2 separate regions of the Homo sapiens genome follow, and region 2 is linked to region 1. Evidence: fine-mapped expression QTL. A gene starts in region 1. The other region holds a variant in brackets. All regions are shown on one strand. Distances are from middle to middle.

Region 1 (11,603 bases):
GAAACAGCTGTGACTTAATCTGTTACTTTCTTGATTGGCTCCATACCTGAGTGTGACTCCCTAGAAAAGCCCAAGTAGAACTGAGTAGAAGCCCACCTCAGGTCAGCCTGAAGGCAGTGCTTGCCTCTGAGAAGAAGCCCCACGGGCTGTGCCATGGTGCAAGACCCCCTGAGTGGGGCACCTCTGACTCACATCTCTAGCTATAGCCATCTGGAAAAGCCCTTGCTCAGACAGAAGGATGAAGAGTTGGTACCAGACAAACCTCATGAGGCTGGGCCTACCCTGATCTGATCCGACCTACAAGCACCCTCTTTCTAAGCTTTGCAGGGAAAATGGCCCTGGGTTAGGTGGGGGTGGGTGAGGGGACAGGCAGGACCCTTTTGAAGCAGAGCAGTGAGACCAGGATTCCAGTATGCTTCTTCCTGTTCTCAACCCGTGGGCTTTTGCTTTTTCTCTCAGAGCTTTCACTCTGGTGCTTGAGGAAAGTAATTCACACCATTTTGTGAATTTAATTCTTTTATTATCTCTCCCAAGGGCATTTGCATTTTACACCTTGTCTCTAACCTCGTAGGTTAAAGGGAAAATCAGAAACCTAGCACACCTGGGCACCGCAACCCCCACCTGTGTTTCAGGCTATGGCCACACACAAATCAGATAGGAGCCCTCGGAGCCCCCACTCCCTGAAGCCAAGCAGAGTCCTTCCTTCAGCAGGTATTCTGGAAATTAAATGGAGACTAGAGCAGACAAGGTCTCCCCTCACAGAGCCTATAGTCTAAAGGGAAGCAGGAAAAATACAAGAGGCCAGGCACGGTGGCTCACGCCTGTAATCCCAGCACTTTGGGAGGCCGAGGTGGGTGAATCATTTGAGGCCAGGAGTTTAAGACCAGCCTGGCCAACATGGTGAAACTCCATCTTTACTAAAAGTACAAAAAATTAGCCAGGTGGTAGTGGCGTGCGCCTGTAATTCCAGCTACTTGGGAGGCTAAGGCAGGAGAATTGCTTGAGCCCAGGAGGCGGAGGTTGTGGTAAATAGAGATCGCACCACTGCATTCCAGCCAGAGTGACAGAGCGAGACTCTGTCTCCAAAAAAAGAAAAAAAACACAAGAAAACAGAAAACAGATAAAACAAGTGCAATTGTGGTAAGTGCTATGAAAGAAGCAAACAGGGCTGAGAAACAGAATAAAGGTGGGATGGGGTAGAGGATGATTTTATATGGGAGGAAAGGGGAAGATGAGAGAAGAGACATTTTTGTTGAGACAAGAGGATGAAAAGGTGCCCACTCTAGGAAGAGGAGGGTTTGGGGAAGAACTTAACAGGTGTAAAGATTTTTATCGGGTTTGAAGTCTAGTTCAAGGCAGATCTTTCAATATGGGGATCTGATTGGGACTGGGCAAAATTTATAACAGTTTAGGATTGGAGGACATGGTGAAGGGAGGGTCTTGAAGAATAAACAATTGTTTGATAAGCTACTGGTTTGCCCAGTTAAGCAAACTATTGTCCCGAGAAGGGGGCTGTTTGAGCAGTCTATTGTTCAGATAAATTGATTTTCAGGAAGTTCCTGAAGGAAATAATGAAGTTATTTACCAGTTTACAGTCTTATCTTCCTGGGGAAGAAATTTCTGGAACAAATATTAAAGTCATGCAGATGTAGGCAGCCTCAGTGAAATGATGTCACCGCAGGTGAGGCCGTTGTAGTCTGGCTGAGTGGTAGGTAATTGTGGCCTGGACTAGGGTGGGGTGGTAAAGACAGGAATGGATGGATTGGGATATATTTTTGGAGATAGGCCAGTGACTCACTAAATTGATTAGATGAGCGAGAAACAATCACAGATGATGGCTAGGTTTTTGACTTGAGCCATTAGGTAGGTGGTAGTACCATTTACTGGATGGGAAAGAAGATGGTACTGGGTTGGGGATGATGGTTAAAGGTTCAATGTTAGGGTTAGGATGTGGAAGCCATCCTCACAGGGTTAGCAAGTATTACATGCTAGGTTCTGGGCGGAAATACTGTTATAATTTAACCTTAATAGGCAAGTGCGGTGGCTCACACCTGTAATCCCAGCACTTTGGGAGGCCGAGGCGAGAGGATCACTTGAGCCCAGGAGTTTGAGATTAGCCTGGGCAACATAGCAAGATCTTGTCTCTACACAAAATGAAAAACAATTAGCCAGGCAGGGTGGCTCATGCCTGTGTATGTAGTCCCAGCTACTTGGGAGGCTGAGGTGGAAGGATCACTTGAGCCCAGGAGGTTGAGGCTGCAGTGAGCCGTGACTTCACCACTGCACTCCAGCCTGGGTGACAGCAAGACCGTGTCTCAAAAAAGAAAGAAAGAAAGAAAAAGCATTAATTAGGTTGCACTTTGGCGCACTTCCTTGTTGCTAAAAGTTCCATAGAACCAGATACTGACCATTTGCATCCCCATTTTTCCTATAGATAGGATTTCTGATGTTAGAATCATAAGGCTTTTGTTGAAGAATCGATTTGCATCCCCATTGTTCCTATAGATAGGATCACTGACGTTGGAATCATAAGGCTTTTGTTTAAGATTTGCTTAAGATGTTTTTAGCTCTTGAGTTCCAGCAGAATGGCTGATGCCACCAGTTTGAAGACCCTCACAGAGGAGCGTAATCAGCATGAGAATGCAGTTTCTTCATCTCCCTGTCCCGTGACTCTGCGTCACGGGACATCCACAGTGATCCCCACACCTCGGCCCACTCCAAACCCCTTAAAATCCCTAGCCCCCAACTCTTCGGAGAAGCAGATTTGAGGTTTTCTCTCCTCTCCTTGTTCAGCCTTGCATTTAAAATTCTTTTTCTGTTGCAACCCTCGGTGTTGGTGTATTGACTTGCAGGCCCTCAGGCAATGGACCCATTACGGTTACAATGTCTGTGAGGCCCTGGGGTAGAAACATCAAGTGTGTGGTTGGATAATAGTCTTGGATATTAAATAATTGGGAGAATCATCACCACATAGTTGGTACTTAAAGCTATGGAAAAGGACAAAATTTTACCTAGGGAGATGTGGTAGGAGGAAAATAGGGTGTAGGAGAGAGCCCACAGGGAATGCCCACCTGGAGACCAGGATGGAGGAGGGAACATAAAAAAGGGTGGCTGGGAAAGAGCAGCCAGTGAGGTGGGAGGACTCAAGAAAGTGTGGACTCATGAAGTGAGTGTTTCAAGGAGTGGCTGACTGGGTTACATCATGTAAATTTGATAGTTGTTCCTGGGAAATGGTGCAGTAGTAGAGAAAATCTAGAATCTTCAGTCAGATAGCTTCCTGTCTCACTAATTGGAGCTTCATTTTTCTTATCTCTAAAATGGGATTCCAGGTACTCAGGGACTTGCAAAGAGATGGAATTAAATTAAATTAAAAAATAAGATAAAATGGGGATAATGACACCAACATCACAGAACTGGGATAAGGTACAAATAGATACCATATAGGAAAACAGTATTGTGCCTAAGACCCAGTAGGGAGACACTTTATATCTTAATTTGGTGGCAGTGAGTGGAAGGGCTGATCTTTGCTCTTCCTCTCTTAATCTGCTGTTGCTAAGGACAGCTGCAGGGAGGTACCCACAATCAAGTTGCCCCCCTGAAGATGATCAGGGGCCAGAGAAAAACAACCAGATATATGGAAAACACAGGCATGTTGTCTGGGAGGAGGAAAGTCTTGGTGGCACTTGGGTACCCTTTTTTTTTTTTTTTTTTTTAGACAGAGTTTCCCTCTTGTTGCCCAGGCTGGAGTGCAGTGGCATGATCTCAGCTCACCACAACCTCCGCCTCCCGGGGTTCAAGCAATTCTCCTGCCTCAGCCTCCTGATTAGCTGGGATTACAGGCATGAGCCACCACGCCCGGCTAATTTTGTATTTTTAGTAGAGATGGGGTTTCTCCATGTTGGTCAGGCTGGTCCCAAACTCCCGACCTCAGGTGATCCTCCTGCCTCAGACTCCCAAAGTGCTGGGATTACAGGCGCGAGCCACCGCGCCCGGCAATTTGGGTAACCCTTTCATGATTTCTAGGATGGCTTCATCCATAGTTATCCAAACATCAAGCCTTTAATGTTGGCTTCTCCCACTCTCTTACACCCACCTGTTTTCTCCTTTCCATTCCCCCTACTCCCAGCTTAGCTCAGGCCTGCATCATTTTTACCCTGGCCACTGCCATTGTCTGGTCACTGGCCTCCTTCCTACCTCCAGCTAGATTGATGCCATCTGAGACCTTGCTTAGAATCCTTCAGTGGCTCCCCATTTCCTTCCATCAACAAGTATTGATCAATAAGTATTTATGAAGGGCCTGCTCTTTCCCAATCTCTGGCTAGGCACACTGGAGAGATACATCCCTGCCCTTGTGGAGCTTACAGTCCAGGGCGGAGACAGACAAATGAATGGTTACCATATTATTTACAAATGGGGTTTTTCCAGAGCCCACAGATGGGGCACCTGGCCCAGATATGGCCATCAAGAAAGGCTTCAGGGAAAGTTGATGTCTAGGCTGAGACCTAAAAGATGAATAAAAGGAGTTAGCCAGGCAAAGCAGTGGGCAAGGATGAGCCCTTAGAAGGCCTTCAGAGCCTTGCTGACCATCACCTTTGAACACATGCTGGCCACCCACACTGTGGGCATAGACTTATTAGTAGGTCCATGATTGTCACTCCTTTAATCTGCCCTACACCCACAGGTCCTTCCAAGACCCATTTCAGATGCCACCTCCCCCAAGAAGTTCCAGTCCCCATATCCCAGTGTCTTTGGTGGCCCTGTGCCCATTTGCCTGCCCTATCTTAGCCCTCTCCACTTCACTGCAATGGTATATTCACCCATTCCTTTACAAAATCAGAATCCAGAAAGGGCAGGACACCGTCTCATTTGTCTTCGTGTCCCCAGCACCCCGGTAAGCCAGGCATAGGTAGACTTTTTTTTTTTTTTTTTTTTGAGACAGAGTCTTACTCTGTCACCCAGGCTAGAGTGCAGTGGTGCGATCTCCACTCACTGCAACCTCTGCCTCCTGGGTTCAAGCAATTCTTCTGCCTCAGCCTCTTGAGTAGTTGGAATTACAGGCATGCACCACCACACCCGGCTAATTTTTGTATTTTTAGTAGAGAGGGGTTTTCACCATGTTGGCCAGGCTGGTCTCGAACTCCCAACCTCAGGTGATCTGCTGCCTTGGCCTCCCAAAGTGCTGGGATTACAGGCGTGAGCCACTGCGCCCGGTCATATGTAGACATTTGATAAATACGTTGAATGAAAGGAAACCAACTCTCCATTCTCCCCCACCCTCCCATATAATGGGACAGGAGAAAATAAGATTTATTTGAGAGGCTGCAAATGACAGGATTAGGGAGTGGTTGGAGATATCAGGAATCCGTCTAGCTACAGGTGAGATCAGGTTTTGTTTTTTTTGAGACGGAGTCTCGCCCTGTCGCCCAGGCAGGAGTGAGTGCAATGGCGCGATCTCGGCCCACTGCAACCTCCCACTCCCGGGTTCAAGCGATTCTCCTGCCTCAGCCTCCCGAGTAGGGGGTTACAGGCGCGCCACCACGCCCGGCTAATTTTTTGTATTTTTAGTAGAGACGGGGTTTCACCGTGTTAGCCAGGATTGTCTCCATCTCCTGACCTCGTGATCCGCCCCCGTCGGCCTCCCAAAGTGCTGGGATTACAGGCGTGAGCCACCGCGCCCGGCAGAGATCAGGTTCTTAAGGGAAGTCCGGAGAAATGGGGTTTTTAAAAAACCCGAGTCCAGGCTATCTGTTTGGAGGGGTTGGGAGGCTTGGAGCTGGACCAATAACTTCTTAGGTCTTGCTTTAAGGAGTGAAGATTCTCTGTAGCGACCCTCATACCTGGGCAGTGGGAGCGGGCAGAATCCTTCTTTCTTCTCTTCTCTACACCCCCTCACTCCACCCCCACCCTTCCCCGCCGCCCGTAAACCTTAGCTTTCCCCTTTCCAACAGAGGTTTCCAGCTGTTGATGCCTGGATGGACCCGGCTGCAGGGAGGAGGAGGAAACTCTCTGTCCCTCCCTTCTTCTGCAAGTCCCCACCCTCCCTCCCTCCTCCCCCTGCGCGCTCTCGGTCTCCCTCCCTCTTTCTCCTCTAGGCTGTCCAGTCGCCTCGCAGCAGCGAGCCGCGAGCGCCCTTCTCCAGTCCCGGCTTGGAACTGAACTGTGTGAGCACGGGTCCTGGAACCCGGGCCCAGAACCGGCGAGCCCAGGTCTGAGCCCAGAGCTCAGCGGTCAGCCTCGTAGGCCCTGACTCGGAATCGAGCCGAGGCGCTGAGGTTGGAGCCGGAGAGCGTGAGAGCCGAAGAGCAGGGAGGGCGGGCCGGCTGCGCGTCCGACGAGTCGCAGAGCAGGACCGCGGAAGGCAGGGAGACGGCCGCAAGCCCAGGGCAGAGGGCAGAGGGCAGAGAGCGGCCTGGCTCGGCGGAGAGGGCGCCGCCCGGCCGGAACCAAGCTCGCCGCCCGGGACGGCGGGCCCCGTGGGGCGCGGACCCAGGGTGGCCGTGGGTCCGCAGCGACTCCCCGGCCGACGGCGGGGGGCGTGCCCCCTCCCAGCCCAGCCTCCCCAACCCGGCCCGCCCGCCGCGTCGCGGGGGCATGTGAGCGGGAAGCCTAGGCTGCCAGCCGCGAGGACCGCACGGAGGAGGAGCAGGAGCGCGGAGCCGCGAGCCCCGAGCCCCGAGCCCGGCGCCTGGCTGAGTAGTAAGTGCACCCCTCCCCGCCATGATCGCGCCGTCGCGCCCATTTCCCCAGCTCTCTGAAGTTTGACACTTGCGCCCCTACGTTTCTGGGCACCCACCGGCTCTCTTCCCTGCGAGTTTCCACCCTGTGCAAAGTTTTTCGAGGAGAGACGGACCCTCACCTACCCCCAACAACGCTGGGCAGTGGCGGCTCCTCCCTGGCCGACTTGGGTCCTTGTGGAGAGGGATGGCAGCCTCTAAGGCAGTGCGTGGCTGTGTGTGTGTTTGTGTGTGTGTGTGTGTGTGTGTGTACGCGCGCGCGCGCGCGCGTTCACCACGCGGGTCGAGCTTAGGGTGCACCCCCAACCCGCTCCTCGCCGACCGCAGAGGACTAGGTCTTTCTCATCAGCCCGACTATGCGCCTAGTTTAAGGATTTCTCAGCGGGAAGCCGAAGCGACCTGCGCGCGTCCTGCGTGGGGCTCAGGTGCCTGCGACGAGGCGCAGAGCTCCTCCACCATGGTTGCGTGGGGTGCTGGGGGACAGACGCGCTCCCCTTGCCACGGTTTCAGGGTCGTTCCCCAGCGGACCAGACCAGCGCGGCATCCTGTTTGTTTTCTGCTCCGGCTGCTCCTGTCCCACCCCCACCCCCACCGCAGGCTGCTTCTTGCTACCCCCACCTCCCGCCCTGGGATATCGTAGGTGAGCCTTTTCATCCCGATTCCGCTGCAAACGCTGATCGCGCCTAGGGGTAGGGAGATGCGGAGCGGGTAGTCGTTCAGTTCCCAGCGGCTCGCCATTGTTTTCCCACCCCGCGCGTTCCGTACGTAAACACACACGCACACACAAGGTTGTGTGTGTGCGCCGGCTCTGGCTGCTTCCCGTCCCCAGGCGCGCAGGGATCGCCCGCGGGATTCGCTCAGCTGCCCGCATGGGTCTTCAGGCTGGAGGCGCTCCAGGACTTAACTGGAGCTGGAGAGGACAAGAGACGTGGGGGTTGCCGGACAGTACCGGGCGGGGCGGTGAGCCGGGCCTGGGCGGGAAGTGAATTTTGAACTTCAGCCCTGGACCTTTCCGGGAGGACCCCGAGCGCTGGAGCGGCGGCTCCCGCCCTGGAGGGCCCGCGGCAGCTGCAAAGACTCCGCTGGCGCTCTTGGCAGCCGCCTCGGTGACAGAGGCTTGGAGGAAGCCGAAGAGTTTTCCTGGGAAGTTTGCTTTGACTCTCTGGGAATTTCCGGGCAGGACGCCTCGGCGCTGGCGCTGGCGCTGGCGCTGGTGAAGGGGTCTGGCCAAAGACGGCCAGAGACGATGCTGCTGGCTCTTGACCACTAGGCTGTACTTGGCTCTCAGCAGTCCAAGTAGGTGGGTCTCTACCTCCCGGAGTTCATGCCTTCCAAACCAGTATCCCCCAAAGGATCACGACATGCCGGTTTCAAAGATGGGTGCATAACTCTGCTCGTTTTGGAGTCCAGGGAGGCAAGCTCGGTTCCAGCCGGGCGGCGCTCTCCGTCGAGCCAGGCCGCTCTCTGCCCTCTGCTCTCTGCCCTGGGCGTGGGGCTGTCTCCCTGCCTACCGCGGTTGTGCTTTCGGACTCGTCCGACGCGGCGCCAGCCCGCTACCTCCCGCTCTCCCTCTCCCCCGCTCCCTGGCTCCCCGGCTCCCTGACTCCGTAATCTGCGCCTCGGCGCAGTTGCGAGTCAGGGCCTGAGGCTGACCCCTGTTTCCACTGTGCTTCATTAGAAAGCGCTTCACAAGATGCTGGGATTCAGCACATTTGGATTCCAGTTCCCCATCGATGAGCAGCGTGGGTTTGGACTTCCCCGCATGCGAAATGGGCAGAGTTATGCACCCAACTTTGAAACTGGCATGTCGTGATCGTTTGGGGGATACTGGTTTGGAAGGCATGATCTCCAGGAGGGTAGGGACCCACCTACCTCTGGATCATTAAGGGCCAAATATAGCCTAGTGGTTAAGAGTCCTGGAGCTGGAGTTAGATCCCGGATGCCACTGGCGGTGTGACTCTGGGCAATTTAACTTAACCTCTGTGCCTCAGTTTCCTCAGCCATAAAATAGGGTTAATATGAACGCTTCATGGGGTTGTCTTGAGGATTAAAAGACTTAATAAAGTGAAACTGAGAACAGTGCCTGGCACATAATAAGTGCTAGGTAAATATGAGCTATTATTGCCATTATTACTTAACTGACCTTGTACAGAGCCCAGAAGAGCACTTGGTGATTGTGCTCAACTAATCAATTATAACATTGCCCACTTCTGGAGAGGAGGAGATCTTGTACTCTCTCCCACCCTTGCCTGATTCCAGCCCCTCAGATCAAACGTATCCTTCTTACTCCTTGTCTAGTGCCATCTTCTCGAGTCTTTTTTCTTTTTCTTGTTTCCTTCCTTTCTCCCTCCCTTCACAACTTTTGTGAAAGCATTTCATTCCCTCCTTTCCTCATTCTTAAAAATCAATCTTGGCTCAACTGCAGTGTTCTCTCCATGGAAATCAGGTCCCAGGAAGGAATTGTCTCCAAAAGGGTGTCCCTTGAGCGTCCTCAGCCTGGGCTGCTGGATCAGGATTGGATGTGCATTTGTGTCTCTGGGGCAGGGTGAATTTCCAGAGCAAAGAGCCTGTCAGGTGTCTGGGGCCCAGGGGAAGAGTCAGGTGGAATGGGCTGGGACTGTCCCAGGAGGAGCCCTGCTCCCTGGGTAGTGTCTGTGTCTCCTGCTGCTGGGCTCACTTGGGAACCTGGAATAGCACAGCTGCTTGGGTAGACTGGATGTGGGATTTGGGGTGAGGGGCAAAAGTGTCACCTCCAACTTTCCACTTGCAGTTGGAGGATTTTCTAGGAATTTGGGTTTGTCACAAGTTCCTTGTCTGATTCAGGACTCTGCAAATGCATAGCACAGGTAAGGGGCGAGCTGAGCAACCAGGAGGAAGAACAGGGTGCTGCTGCCCAGCCACACTGCCTTGGACAACAGGCTCCTGTCCTCCTTTCTCAGACCCTCCAACCTCCACCCCAGGCATGGGGGAGGATGGCCAGAAGGTTGCTTCTTCATGTTGGAGATCCTGCAATTGGCAGTTTTTAGTCATTATGACAACTGGCACTGCAGTCACCCCATTCATTCCTTCAACAGAAATTGTTGACCACCTGCTATGTGCCAGGGCCTGTGCTACGCAGTGGGATAACAGGGGAGAACAAGACAGGCAGCGTGCCTGCCTTCAAAGAGGCTTCTTTCTATTGTGGGGAGACAGACAGTAAATACTTTTAAGTAACCAAGACTATCAGATTATGACATGCAATGGGAAAGAAATACCACAGGGTGATGTGATAGAAAACATATGTAGGTCAGGCAGTGGTGGCCCTAGATTGGGAGGCCAGTGAAGGCCACCCTGGGGGAGAGGATAGCTCAGCCCAGGCCTTGAAGGCTGAGGAGCCAGCTGCATAAAGACCTGGAGACAGGGGATTGCAGGTAGAGGGAATAGCAAATGAAAGCCCCTGAGGCCAGAACAGGGGCAACAGCTATGTGGCTGGAGAGGAGAGACTGGAGAAATCAGAGGAGAGCCAAAGCCTGGTAATACTGGTTAGAAGCCTGGATTTTATTGCAGGCGATGCATCCATCAGAGAGTTTTAAGTGGGGGAGTGACATGATCTGCTCTATGATTTTAAAAGATTATTTGGGACACAAGAAACGGTAATCATAGTTGCCCCAAGGGAGGGAAATGGTGGCTGAGGGATGGGATGGAGAAAAGATTGTTTTTGCTGTAGACCCTTTTGTCCTTTCTGAATTTAGTACCAGGTGGGTATACAAACCATCCCCCAAAACCTCCCAAAAACGTGGTTAACAAAGAACAGTTTATAACCTGGAAAATTACATAAGAAGTGAAAAAATCAGGATATAAAACTACAGAGTACAATCTTAATCTTGTACAGAGAATTGTAAGTATACACATGGCTATCATGCACACACGCAAGGACAGAATCTGGGAGGATGCATCAGAATATTTACAGAGGTTAGCTCTGGATACTGGACGTATGGATGGTTTTAATTTCTTTCTTTATCTTCCATTTGTTTTTTCACTTTTCTACAATGGTCGTGAATTACTTTTGTTTGTTTGTTTGCTTGTTTGTTTGTTTGTTTTGAGATAGACTCTTACTCTGTCGCCCAGACTGGAGTGCAGTGGTGTGATCTTGGCTCACTGCAACCTCCACCTCCTGAGTTCAAGCAATTCTCCTGCCTCAGCCTCCCGAGTAACTGGGACTACAGGTGTGTGCCACCACACCTGGCTAATTTTTTTGTATTTTTAGTAGAGACGGCGTTTCACCGTGTTGGTTTGGCTGGTCTCGAACTCCTGACCTCAAATTATCCCGCCCTCCTCGGCCTCTCAAAGTGCTGGGATTACAGGCATGAGCCACTGCCCCCGGCCAATACCTTCCTCTTAGAACTGTTGGGAGGCTAATGGCTGATGATGTCTGCGGCAGCAGTGCTCCATGAATGGTAAGGGCTCTGGGGTTTTCTGTTGCCAGACAAGTGTCGGTTGAGCTAGGCCTATTCCACCAAGGGATCTAGGTGTCCTTGCCCTTGAGAGGCTGACACTGGATTCTACAAAGATTTTCTCCTCTCTGGGGGTGCTTTGAGATCGGTCCTTATTGGGCAGCTCCCCTGGGTAAGTCTCCAGGAAGCTGACACCACCGGAAAAAGTGGAATTCAAATGCAGCTGTGCTCCTGAGCCCCCTCCCCCAGCCACATTCAGGGGTGAAGCTGAGTGTTTGAAAAGGGCTCTGTGCTGGGAGGGCCGGCCAGGCACACAGTAAATCGTGCTTTGAATGGGAGTTATTTTTGTGCCCAGTGTTTGCTTAAGAGGGCTCGCTCCTGCCTGAACTCGTTGCGGTCCTCACCCTTTGCTAGTCCCCTTTCTGGAACCCGGATG
Region 2 (11,603 bases), 26 kb after region 1:
CCTAACTGAAATGCCATTAATCACAATGCTCTCACTTGAGAAGAGAGAACATTAGAAGGGTCACATGAGAAGAGTCTAGAATAGTGCGTGGGAATCTTATCCAGGTGTTGGCTATTTGTTGCTGTGATTATTCTGTTTTTGGAGTGACCCCCATTCAGTCAAAGAAGCAAGGGTGAGAGCTGCTGTCCCAAGTGTATCAGCATAGGGACGTGGGGACGTGGGGGAGGTGGACTGGGGCATGGACCTCGCTATGCTGGCCCCAGGGAGCAGCCTAGAGAAGGAAAGAAACTGTTTCTCGAATGCTAGCTGTAGGTAGGGCGTTCCCAGGTGTGACTGAAATGACAGTCTGGCTCAGAGCACACTGCCTTTTCTTCCCACCTTAACTGGTTACTAAGGGGACAGTTCTACACTACACAGGATTGATTTCTGTGAAATCTATGGAATTTACATATAGTTTTGAGGGGCTGCTTTGAGGCATGAAGCCACCGTATTCACAAAACCCAGCTGCGGGTGAATTGCAATTTATAATAATAAACAGCCTGTACCTGACCTTTGGACCCTGGGTGCTCAGGATGATGCCTGTGGGGCCTGACAGGAAGTGAAGGCGGTGGCATGGGTGTGGGGGGCCACCCCTCCCTCTGACCATGGTGGCGGGTGGCATCCAGGCCCAGAGAAGCCTTGTCACTGGCTGTCCCCTTGGCACCCAGCCCAGCAGGCGGAGAGGGTTAATTGGGATTTGGAGTGTCTGTGGAAAGTAGCCTCTTCTCAAATATCTTGTGCTATGGTTTGGAACTTTGGAATCAGGCATACCGAAAGTGGAATTCTGTCTTCAAGTAAGCCTCAGTTTCCTCATCTGTACAATGAGTTTTGTCCCTGAAGAAAATCCACCTGTGAAGTGCTTAGCTTGTGATCACTCAGTAAATAGGCACTGTCATTATCTTTCTGATGAGGGGCTTCCATATGTGACCTGCCCTGGGCTACAACTCGAACATGGAAATCAGAAGCTTAGCAACACTATTATTTCCACTGCATCAAAGGCCTGGGAGCCCTCCCCTGCCTATACTTTTGTCTCTCAGAGAAGAAGTAATAATTCACTCCATGTGCAAATGGAAAAACTGAGACCTGAAAGGTTGAGTGGTTTGTCCCAGGCCCCATAGTGAGTTAAAGGCATCAAAATCCCTTACACATGTATGGGGCTTTATAAACCATCAAGTGTGTAAAGGGTGTTGACATTTAGAAAATAACTGTGCCGAGTCTCCTAGGGATCTGGTACATGTATTTTGACTGCCAGTTTACGGATGGGAACGATGAGACTCAGAGAACTTAGATGAGCCCAAGATTGTACATTGAGTTTGTGGCAGAGTTGACGCTCAAACTCGAGCCCTCTGCTCTTTCCACCGCACACGCAGACCTCTCACCTGGGCCCTTCTAGACCCTCTCTGCAATTATTTTTTCCCCTCCATACAGGTAGATCTGTGAAGGTGGAGAGTCATGAGCCAGCAGGGACAGGGTTAAATTCTTCCTAAGCAACAGAGCTGGTTTTGAGCTGGGCACCTTCAGTGACCCCATTGTTGACCCCCTTCCCTCGGGTCAGGACTGCAGGCAGTGGGGGAAGGGAAGCACTGCAGGGAGCTCTAATGGCCCAATGCGGGCAGAGAGAGGGCCAGGAAGGGATGCTCATCTGTCTCCCTCTTTGGACAGAGATGAACAAAGATGCCGGTGGCTTTTTCAGTCTCCATAGAAAATCCCCAAGGCTCCCTTGGGGCGGGCTGCCATCAGCTCTTCCTGCACTCTTAATCACACCGTGGAGCACGGGCAGCTCCTGTAGACACAGCAAACCCTGTGATGTGTTGTTGGTTAAGTGGGAACTGGGATAATTTTTGCCAGTAAAGCACCAAATCAGAAAATGGAAGCATCAAATGAACCTTAGGGCTAGTGGGATTTTGGGGCTTGCCTGTCATTCATTCATTGAAAAGGAAAAGGATGGCTTGGGTGGCCCACAGAAGCCAGCATCTGTGACCTCAAATGGATGAGTCCCTGCAAACTGGGAAGGCTGCCCAGTTCCTCTTCCTCTTCCCAAGTGGCCCCCGTCCTGCCACTCCCTTCTATGAGCGCAGACCTTCTGGTTTAGAGCTTCAGTCTGGACCATTGTGCTGTGTCCTCTCCAGGCGGGGAGGGCATCAGGAGTAAACCTCCTTCCACGGCCCTGAGCCGTACAGTAAGTCTCCCAGGGTTGTACGGCAAGGCAGGGGCAGAGCTGTTCTGTAAACAGGCGTCAGTTCAGTTGCCTTGAAACCGCCAACTCTAAGATGGACATCCGAGGGGAAAGGATTTCCAGGAAAGTCGAGGAACTGATTTTAGGGGAAGACTAAATCTCTTTCTCTATCCCCATCTTCTTGTCGTCTGGGTCCCTTGAACTCCCTGCTGAGAAATCCTAAATACACCTTGTCTCTGGGTTGCGCATGGAAGCCTTTAATTGTTTCTAGAGGCAGTGAGGGAAGGCCTTCTAGTTGGTCGGGCAGGTCTGGCACTGTCTGGGTCTTGCTGCTTCTAGACACTTCAATTAGGGATGTTAATTATGGCCTTGTGAACACAGGCTCTCCCAAGGCAGCCGCTCTCCAGCCCTGCTGCCCCCATGTTGTCCCCTCACCAGTCAGTGAGGCTATGTTTATGGTCTCGCCTCTGTCCATCTGCAGATTAAAGATGCCCTGAAAGCATAACTTATTAGCAGTTTTTTGTTCTCTCCATCTTTTAAAAAATTGGATTAAAGTAGACATAATGTAAAATTTACAATTTGTAAATGTGTAGTTCAGAGGCATTAAGTCCATTCACATTGTTTTGCAACCATCACCACCATCTGTCCATGGAACTTTTTCATCTTCCCAAACTGAAACTCTGTTCCCATTAAGCAATAGCGTCCCCTTCCTCTCTCACTCCAGCCCTGTAACTCTATTCTACTTTCTGTCTCTATGAATTTAGCTGTTCTAAGTACCTCACATAAGTAGACACATACAATATTTGACCTTTTATGCCTGGCTTATTTCAGTTAACATAATGTCTTCAATATTTGTCTACATCGTAGATGTGTCAAGATTGCCTTCCAGCTTAGGGCTGATGATATTCCATTGCATGTATATATCATACTTTGTTGATTCATTCATCCATTGATGGACACTTGAGTTGTTTCCCATTTTGGTTGTTGTGAGTAATATTGCTATGAGTTTTGGGGGTATATCCCCAGAAGTGGAATTGCTGGATCATATGGTAATTCTATATCTAATTTCTTGAGGACCCGCCATCATATTTTTCTTTTCTTTTCTTTTTCTTTCTTTCGTTTTTTTTTTTTTTTTTTGCGACAGGGTCTCACTCTGTCTCCCAGGCTGGAGTACAGTGGCATGATCACAGCTCACTGCGGCATCAACCTCCTGGGCTCAAGCGATCCTCCCACCTCAGCCTCCCAAGTAGCTGAGACCACAGTGTATGCCACCATGCCCAGCTGATTTTTGTATTTATTTATTTATTTATTTTTGAGACAGAGTCTTGCTCTGTCGCCCAGGTTAGAGTACAGTGGTGGGTTGTCGGCTCACTGCAGCCTCCATCTCGTGGGCTCAAGCAATTCTCATGCATCAGTCTCCCAAGTAGCTGGGTTTACAGGCACCCGCCACCACACCTGGCTAATTTTTGTATTTTTAGTAGAGATGGGGTTTCACCATGTTGGCCAGGCTGGACTCGAACTCCTGACCTTGTGATCCACCCACCTCAGACTCCCAAAGTGCTGGGATTATATGCATGAGCCACCATGCCCAGCTAATTTTTGTATTTTCTGTAGAGATGAGGTTTTTCCATGTTGCCCAGGCTTCTATCTGTTTTTCACAGCAGCTATACCACTTTTCATTTTACATTCCCATCAGAAATTCTCTACATCCTTGCCAATTCTCCTCCTCCTCTTTCTTCTCTTTTTCTTCTTCTTTCTCCTTCTTTTTTTGATAATAGCCATCCTCTTGGGTATGAAGTGAAAATCCACTGTGCTTTTTATCTTTTAAGGGGGAAGTCAAGGCCTGAGAAACACTGATACGTGCCTCTGCATTGCAGAGCCCCTTGGGCCCAGGCTTTCTAGCCCCATCCTGGCTTCCATTCTCTGTCCTAAACCCCTTTGTCTCCAGTCCATCAAGAGAGGGCAGGGGCGAGGTCCACTGACTGTTAGGGGCCCTGCCTTCCCTCCTGTCACAGCAGCAGAGTGGCTGTGACCTGGCAGAGGTGTTGGGAGGGTGGATGTCCCTAGGGGTCAGGAGGAGGTTTCAGTAATGTGAAATTGGAAGAGTTGAATCATTTCAACCACGGGGCATGGGGATAAAGGAAATCATGATGCAGCCATAGAGTGGAAGATGTGCAGCCATTAAATATGGCTTTATGAATAATTTTTAATATCCAGTTTTTGGTAACATGAAAACTGCTGATGTGTACTATTAAGTGGGAGAAAATAAATATAAAAACTTGCTTATGAGGCCGGGCTCAGTGGCTTATTCCTGTAATCCCAGCACTTTGGGAGGCCGAGGTGGGTGGATCACCTGAGGTCGGGAGTTTGAGACCAGCCTGACCAACATGGAGAAACCCTGTCTCTACTAAAAATACAAAATTAGCTGGGCGTGGTGGCGCATGCCTGTAATCCCAGCTACTCGGGAGGCTGAGGCAGGAGAATCACTTGAACCCGGGAGGTAGAGGTTGCAGTGAGCCGAGATTGCGCCATTGCATTCCAGCCTGAATGCAACAAAAGCGAAACTCCGTCTCAAAAAAAAAAAAAAAGAAAAGAAAAGAAAAAAAAACTTGCTTATGAATGAAAAACAAAACCACCTTCAGAAAAAAAGATTTGATAGAAATAGGCCAAATTGTTGTCAATGGCCACCTCCTGGATGGATGTGAAATGGGTGATTTTTAAAATTGTTTTCTTATTTTTAAATTTTAATTTAAATTTATTTTTTGAGATAGGGTGTTGCTCTGTTGCCCAGGCTGGAGTGCAGTGGTGTGATCATGGCTCACTGCAGCCTCAACCTCAAGTGATCCTCTCATCTCAGCCTCCTTAGTAGCTGGGACTACAGGTGTGTGCCACCACACCTGGCTAATTTTTTCATATTTTTTGTGGAGATGGGATTTCACCATGTTGCCTAGGCTGATCTCAAACTCCTGAACTCAAGCAATCCACCCACCTCGACCTTCCAAAGTGCTGGGATTACAGATGTGAGTCACCATCGCCCAACCTGTTTTCTTTATGTTATTTAAAATTTTGCAGATTGGCTGAACACGGTGGCTCATGCCTGTAATCCCAGCACCTTGGGAGGCCAAGGCGGGCAGATCACCTGAGGTCAGGAGTTCGAAACTAGCCTGACCAACATGGAGAAACCCCATCTCTACTAAAAATACAAAATTAGCCGGGCGTGGAGGCGCATGCCTGTAATCCCAGCTACTCGGGAGGCTGAGGCAGGAGAATTGCTTGAACCGGGGAGGCAGAGAAGTTGTAGTGAGCTGAGATGGTGCCACTGCACTCCAGCCTGGGTGACAGAGCGAGACTCAAAAAAAAAAAAAATTTTGTTGTTGTTGTTGTTGTTGTTGCTGATTTTCTACAGTAAGCACACACTCCTTTTATATTTAGGAAAAAACTGATAAAATAAGAGTGACTACGACTATTCATTAGGCATATGTGTTGCCAGGGTCTACTGAACACTCAGCTCTGCTTGATGCTATTGAAAGTTCAGGAATGAATGCGAAGCTAACAGGGAGGTGTGGGGTTAGGTGGTGGGGAGGACTGGCCAGAACACAGAGGGGTGATGAATGTAAGGGGAGTCAGGGTCTGGGCAGCCTGGAGCCCTCCAGAATGCTGCCTTTGTTCATGAGAAGCCTCATTCATGGGGAAGATACCGTGGGTAGGACTCTGGCCTTGAGTCACCTTGTCTCTGCAAGTGGCGCAGGCAGGCTCCATTGAGCTCTTCACCCATGTTCACCTGGTCCCTTGGCATAGCTGGCAGGAGTGAGCGAAGCTTGTAGCCTGTGAAA[C/G]CAGGGGTTTTCCTGCCCCAGGTTGACTATTACTTCCCTTGCATCATCCGTACCAGGGCCAAGGGCCTGGTTCCCTTGACTTCCATTGTGGGAGCAGCACTGGCCCAGCAGAGGTGGGACAGTGGGGTTTCCAGGAGATAAACTTCCATGGCTCTTGGGACCTCTGACTAGTAGAAGAGAAGCCAGTATAATCCAACACTTAAAAGAAGAGACTCATTAGCCAGTCTCTGGGTTCAGTTTCTTGGTCACTACTCACTGGCTATGACCTTGGGCAATGGCTTAGCCTCCTTAGGCCTCTGTGTCCTCATAGTAGCTATTTCACAGGACTAATGAAGGAATTAAAAGGCTAAATCCTTATAGATTATGCTTAGCATGTAAGTAGTTGATTCCTATGGTCTGACTGAGAGGTGGATTCTGATGCTAGACTGCCTGGGCTCAAATCATGTTGGTGTCTCAGTGTCTTTTTCTGGCTTTTTTTTTTTTTTTTTTTTTTTGAGACAGGGTCTCTGTAGCTCAGGCTGAAGTGCAGTGGCATGATCATGGCTCACTGCAGCCCCAACCTCCTGTGCTCAAGCCATCCTCCCGAGTAGCTTGGGCTACAGGCATGCCTCACCACACCTGGCAAATTTTTGTATTTTTTGTTGAGATGGAGTTTCATCATGTTGCCCAGGCTGGTCTTGAACTCCTGGGCTCAAGCAGTCCTCCCACTTCGGCCTCCCAAAGTGCTGGGATTACAAGTGTGTGCCACTGCGCCCAGTCGGCATCTCAGGTTTTTCATCTGTAAAGTGGAGATGATAATATGATCTACTTCAGATGATTATTATGAAGATTAAATGAATTAATATAAGTAAAAGTGATTCGAACAGTGCTTGGCACATAGTAAATGCTCAATAAACGTTAGCCATAGGCTGGGCATGGTGGCTTATGCCTATAACCTCAGCATTTTGGGAGGCCAAGGCAGGAGGATAGCTTGAGGCCAGGAGTTCAAGACCAGTCTGGGCAACATAGCAAGACCCTGTCACTATAAAAAATGAATTAGCTGGGCATGGTGGCATGCACCTGTAGTTCCAGCTACTTGTGAGGCTGAGGTGGGAGGATTGCTTGAGGCTGGGAGGTTGAGAGGCTGTAGTGAGCTGTGATTGTGCCACTGTACTCCAGCCTGGGTGACAGAGTGAGACCCCATCTCTAAAAAGTAAAGTTAGCCATAATTGGGGTCTTTCACCACATACTAGTGTGACTCAGCCAGTTGTTTGTGGCTGGCAACTGCCAATTCATCTGATTGTCCCAAGAGCCTCAGTGGATTGGTCAGTGCCCATGACTCCCTTGCTAAATAGTCTTGAATGTCACCATTATTCATTACTATTATTAGTATTGTGGGTTCCACGTGTCAGGATCCCTTCCTGGGTTGTATTTCATCTTACCCCTTTGCCAAGTCTTGGTTGATGTGGTCCTGCCTCAGTTTCCAAAGGGTGCTGGTGATGGAAAGCGGGGTGCTGGGCAGATTGGGGTGAAAGCTGGCTGCTTTGGGGATTGTTTGATGAGCATTATAGTAGATTAAGCTGCTTCTCCCCTTCCTTCCCTGCCCTTATTGAAAAGGCGCCAAAGCCAGGAAAAACAAACAGCCACCCATAAATAAAGAGGACCATGAAATAACAAAATCGAAAAAGAAAACTTGCTTTAGTGGCGGGCTTGGCTGACGATAGGGTAGATAATGGGAGAGGAAACGCAGCCTTTGGAGAGAAAAAGAACGGAACGCGTTGTTCACTGGAAGAATGAATGCTGCCTGAGGAAGAGCTGCTAAACTGGGGTGTCCGATGAGCGAGCCTGTGTTAGGGGAGCTGGTGGTGATTAGGCTTACATGAGGCATGAGTGTCATTCCACCAAGAACCCCTGGGATGGGGGACACCTTAGGCTTAAGCGGGCTGTGCCAACGGGAGGCCGGTGTGCCAGTCTGGCCTAGAGCCTTGGCTGCCATGATCATAGAGCTGCTGCTCACCTCCTCAAGGGCTGGCCAAGCTGGGAGCTGGATGCTTGAATCTCTTAGGGAGCCCCTAGACCTTCTGTCAAGGTATATATTTTTTCTGGAGTGTTAGGGAGACAATCCCAGGGAGGAGAGGAGGAGGCCAAAGTTGTTTGCTGACTGTTTGCATTCAAGGCTGTGCTCCTGTCAACACTGCCTGGTGGCTTTCTGGGTGAATGAAATTTACTGACTTCTCTTCCTTTCTTGTACCACTTACCCATCTGGATCGTGGACCCATTTCTCCTGCCTCTGCAATGAGTTGGGTGCCTGAGGTGGGAAGGGGAGAGAAACCTTTCCTGAGCCCTTGGGATCCCAGGATGCTGTGTGGAAGTGCCCACTTTGGGAGTGGGCTGTGGGCTCACAGATGGGTAGAGGCTGATATTTGAAATGCATTTAAGAAGGGCCTTAGATGGCTGGGCGCGGTGGCTAACACCTATAATCCTAGCATTTTGGGAGGCTGAGACAGGAGGATCACGTGAGCCCAGCTGTTCAAACCAGCCTGGGCAACATAGCGAGATTCCCTCTTTATTTAAAAAAAAAAAAAAGTGGCAGGAGGCCTTGGAAACATACTGGTTTGGGGCTGAGTGGTCTGGCTGGTAGAGGTTTCCTGGAAACACAGTCCTTCATTCAGCCACCACAATACTAAGTGCCAATCTGCTTTGTGCCAGGCATTGGGCTAAGTATTTTCTATATAATAACTTATCAGTTCTCTAGCAAGCATAAGAGGTAGGTATTGTTAGCCCCCATTTCAGACAATGAATCTGAGGTGTAAAGAGGTTAAGTCTCAAGTATTCACTGGGCTACCTAGAGCCCAGCTGCTTCCCAATTTTCCACCCTTCACCTCCTAATCTAGATGACAATGGTAAAATGCCCATTACAGTTGTTCATCACGGCTGTGTGCCAGGCACTGGGCTTTGCCTGTGTTATCTCGTTTACTCTTTGAAACCCCACTAGTGAGTATATATTACTATTTGCCCCAGTTACAGATAAAGGCAGGAGGGTCATTTGAGCCCAGGAGTTCAGGACCAGCCTGGGCAACATGGTGAGGCTGAGAGAGTTAAACTAGTTGGCTAGTTAAGACGGATGCTGGGTTTGAACCAATGCTGCGTGTCTCCCAGAGCCTCATTTCACCATGTACTATGAGGGCTTAGTCTACATGGCTTAGACTTGTCACAAAGCAAAAGCCGATAATGCCCAGCCCACCCCAGTACTGGGAGAAGGAGTGTTTGGCAAAGGTGAGATTTCATCAGCCTGGCGGGTAAACATGGCTGTTTGCAGACTAGTTGCGCTTGTCCTTTCCGCTGTCTGTAGTCATCCCTATGGTCCCCACCTTCCTCTCCCTCTGGGGTTGGCAGGAGAACGCAAGGGTTAATGATATAGCACTTCACCCTTGTGGGCTCCAGAGGAAATGAGGGAGCTCATGAGTTCTGCAGAGCTTTTGTGTCATCAGCCGGGGAAGGGAAGGCACCGTGGCTTGGCCAGATAAGCGGTGGCGCTGCGAATGTGGGGCTTCCTTGGCAGATTTGTAGCCTTTCCGCCTGTTTGCACTGTGGGGCACCTGCTGGGGCTTCCAGGGTGGTTGGGGACATCAACAGGGCATTCAGAAAACTGATAACCTAGGCTAGGGAGGGAGACCTACATGGAGCAGATGGAGGAGGAAGAGGGTGGCGGGCCCTGGTGTTCTGCAGGTGCATGTCTTCTGCTTGTTTGACCATGTGGGGGAAGGGGGTGGCGGTGGGTCAGGGAGCAAACATTTTTTTGATTTTCACAAACACCATCATATTCAGTCTTCTCTATCTCTATGGGGTAGGTGTTATTTGTTCCCATTTTAGAGATAGAGAAACTGAAACTTCCCCATGGCCACACATCTAGTGGTATATAATAGAGCCAGTCTTCAGACACAGGTCCATGTGACAAAGTCCTTTTTCCATTAGCCACACCAGGATGCCTCCCAGCAATGCTGGGTCATCACACCCACCCACCTGCCTCCGGAAGAGCTGGGCTGGCTGGGGAGGAGAATAGGGTGTGAGTCCTTCTCCCCCTTGCCCTGGGGGCAGGGAGGGAGAGGGACTCCTTCCTGCTTTAGGGCTCTTTCTCCTTACCTCCTTCCCTGAACATATATTCTGTACCAGATTCTGTAATTATACCTTATCTCTTACTCACAAAATAGTTCTTGGAATCTCTATTTTACACATGAAGAAATGGGGGTTTTGAGAGGTGAAGTCTTTCCCCCAACTTGCCAGAGCTGCCTGGGTTTCTTTTGACTAAGTTTTCCTTGGCTATGACTCAAGTCAGAAACAACTGCAATCCTGTAAGAGGTGAAGACAGTGGCCATTCTATCTCTGCTGGACCAGAGCCTGTTATTTTGCACCGAGGAGAGTGGCCAGGGCATCAGCTGATAAATGAAAGGATGTGGATTTAGACATCAGCGAGGCCTGAGTTCAAATGCTACTTCTGCTGGGCCCTCAGTAGGACGTTCTAGCCCCCGAGCCTTAGTCTTTGTAGTGTTCTTGTGAGGATTAAGCAGGAATGTGAATGAAGAGCCTTTCACTTAGTGCTTGCAGCCAAGTAAGTGCTGTAGCATTGCATGCTTGCTTTTTGCCTCCCATTCCTTTGGTCAGTATTCAGGGCTATCCCCCAAGGGGCCTTTGACATGGCCAGTCAGCCTCAGCTGCACAATTTCTGCATCTCCCAGCCCTAGGCTGGGCACTGTCCCTGCAGGAAGCCAGATGTGCTCACCTGTCCAGGACACAGGCTTGGCCTTGCCATTGGGAAACAAGGATGAGGCCTACCCCTGCCTTCTAGCACTGTTGGGGTGCAGGAGAACCTGGAGACAGGCTTGGGTTCTAGAGGCAGGAAGGCCTCCAGAGAAGGGCCTCCTAGAGACACTGTTGACCTCTTCTCGGTTTGGGACCTTCTGGAGGCACACATCACACTGGGAGCCTCAATGGCGCTTTCAAGCAGTCCCATCTGTCTCTTTCTCGACCCACTCACTGGGTTGGGAGAAGACTCAGGTGCCTCTGAGGCCTGAGGACCAGGTGGGAACATCACAGCTACAGTCTCTCCCTGGCCACTGTTTTCCTTTGTGCCCTTGGGCCAGGGTCAGCTGAGTCCCGGCAGCCACAGAAGCTCAGGCTGGACTGTGATTCTGTACCTGAGGTGCTGTGGGGAAGTGCCTCTTCTCCCATGCTTGGGAGTTGACCCAGCCTCTGTCTGATGTTGGCCACTCTACCAGGTGAATGCCACCCTGACCAGCCTGGAAACAGCCGAGGGAGTGTTGGCTGTGGCCCCCCTGAGCTGGGCTAGACCAGACCGGCCGTGCCCTGGATCTGATACCCCCCAGGGCTCACAGAGGCTGGAAAGGGTGAGAGGGACTCGCAGGAAAGCTTTGTCCCAAGCCTGCAGCCAGTCCAGCTCCCAGCTCTGAGTAAACATTAGAGATAGGATCGGGTGTAGCCAGGAAGGGTGGCAGGGTGTGGTCTGTGAGAAGAATGGCAGGATGTGGCACCGGGGCACTGTTCTGGGCACCCACGCC

What was found.
Region 2: its variant is fine-mapped to the expression of SOX13 in whole blood (TOPMed, PIP 0.94).

What each region holds. Positions count from the first base shown.
Region 1 is chr1:204,067,016-204,078,618 of GRCh38, forward strand. SOX13 (SRY-box transcription factor 13) reads left to right here and starts at 6,100. Exons shown (of 14, transcript NM_005686.3): 1 at 6,100-6,696. RefSeq lists enhancers at 1,652-2,153, 6,779-7,471, 8,166-8,857, 10,485-11,413, 11,414-11,603.
Region 2 is chr1:204,092,906-204,104,508 of GRCh38, forward strand. All of the region lies in intron 1 of SOX13 (SRY-box transcription factor 13), which reads left to right. Among named protein-coding and RNA genes, the nearest start is that of SOX13, 26 kb to the left of the region's middle. RefSeq lists an enhancer at 482-626 and a cis regulatory region at 547-560. The variant C/G (reference allele first, on the strand shown) is at 6,049.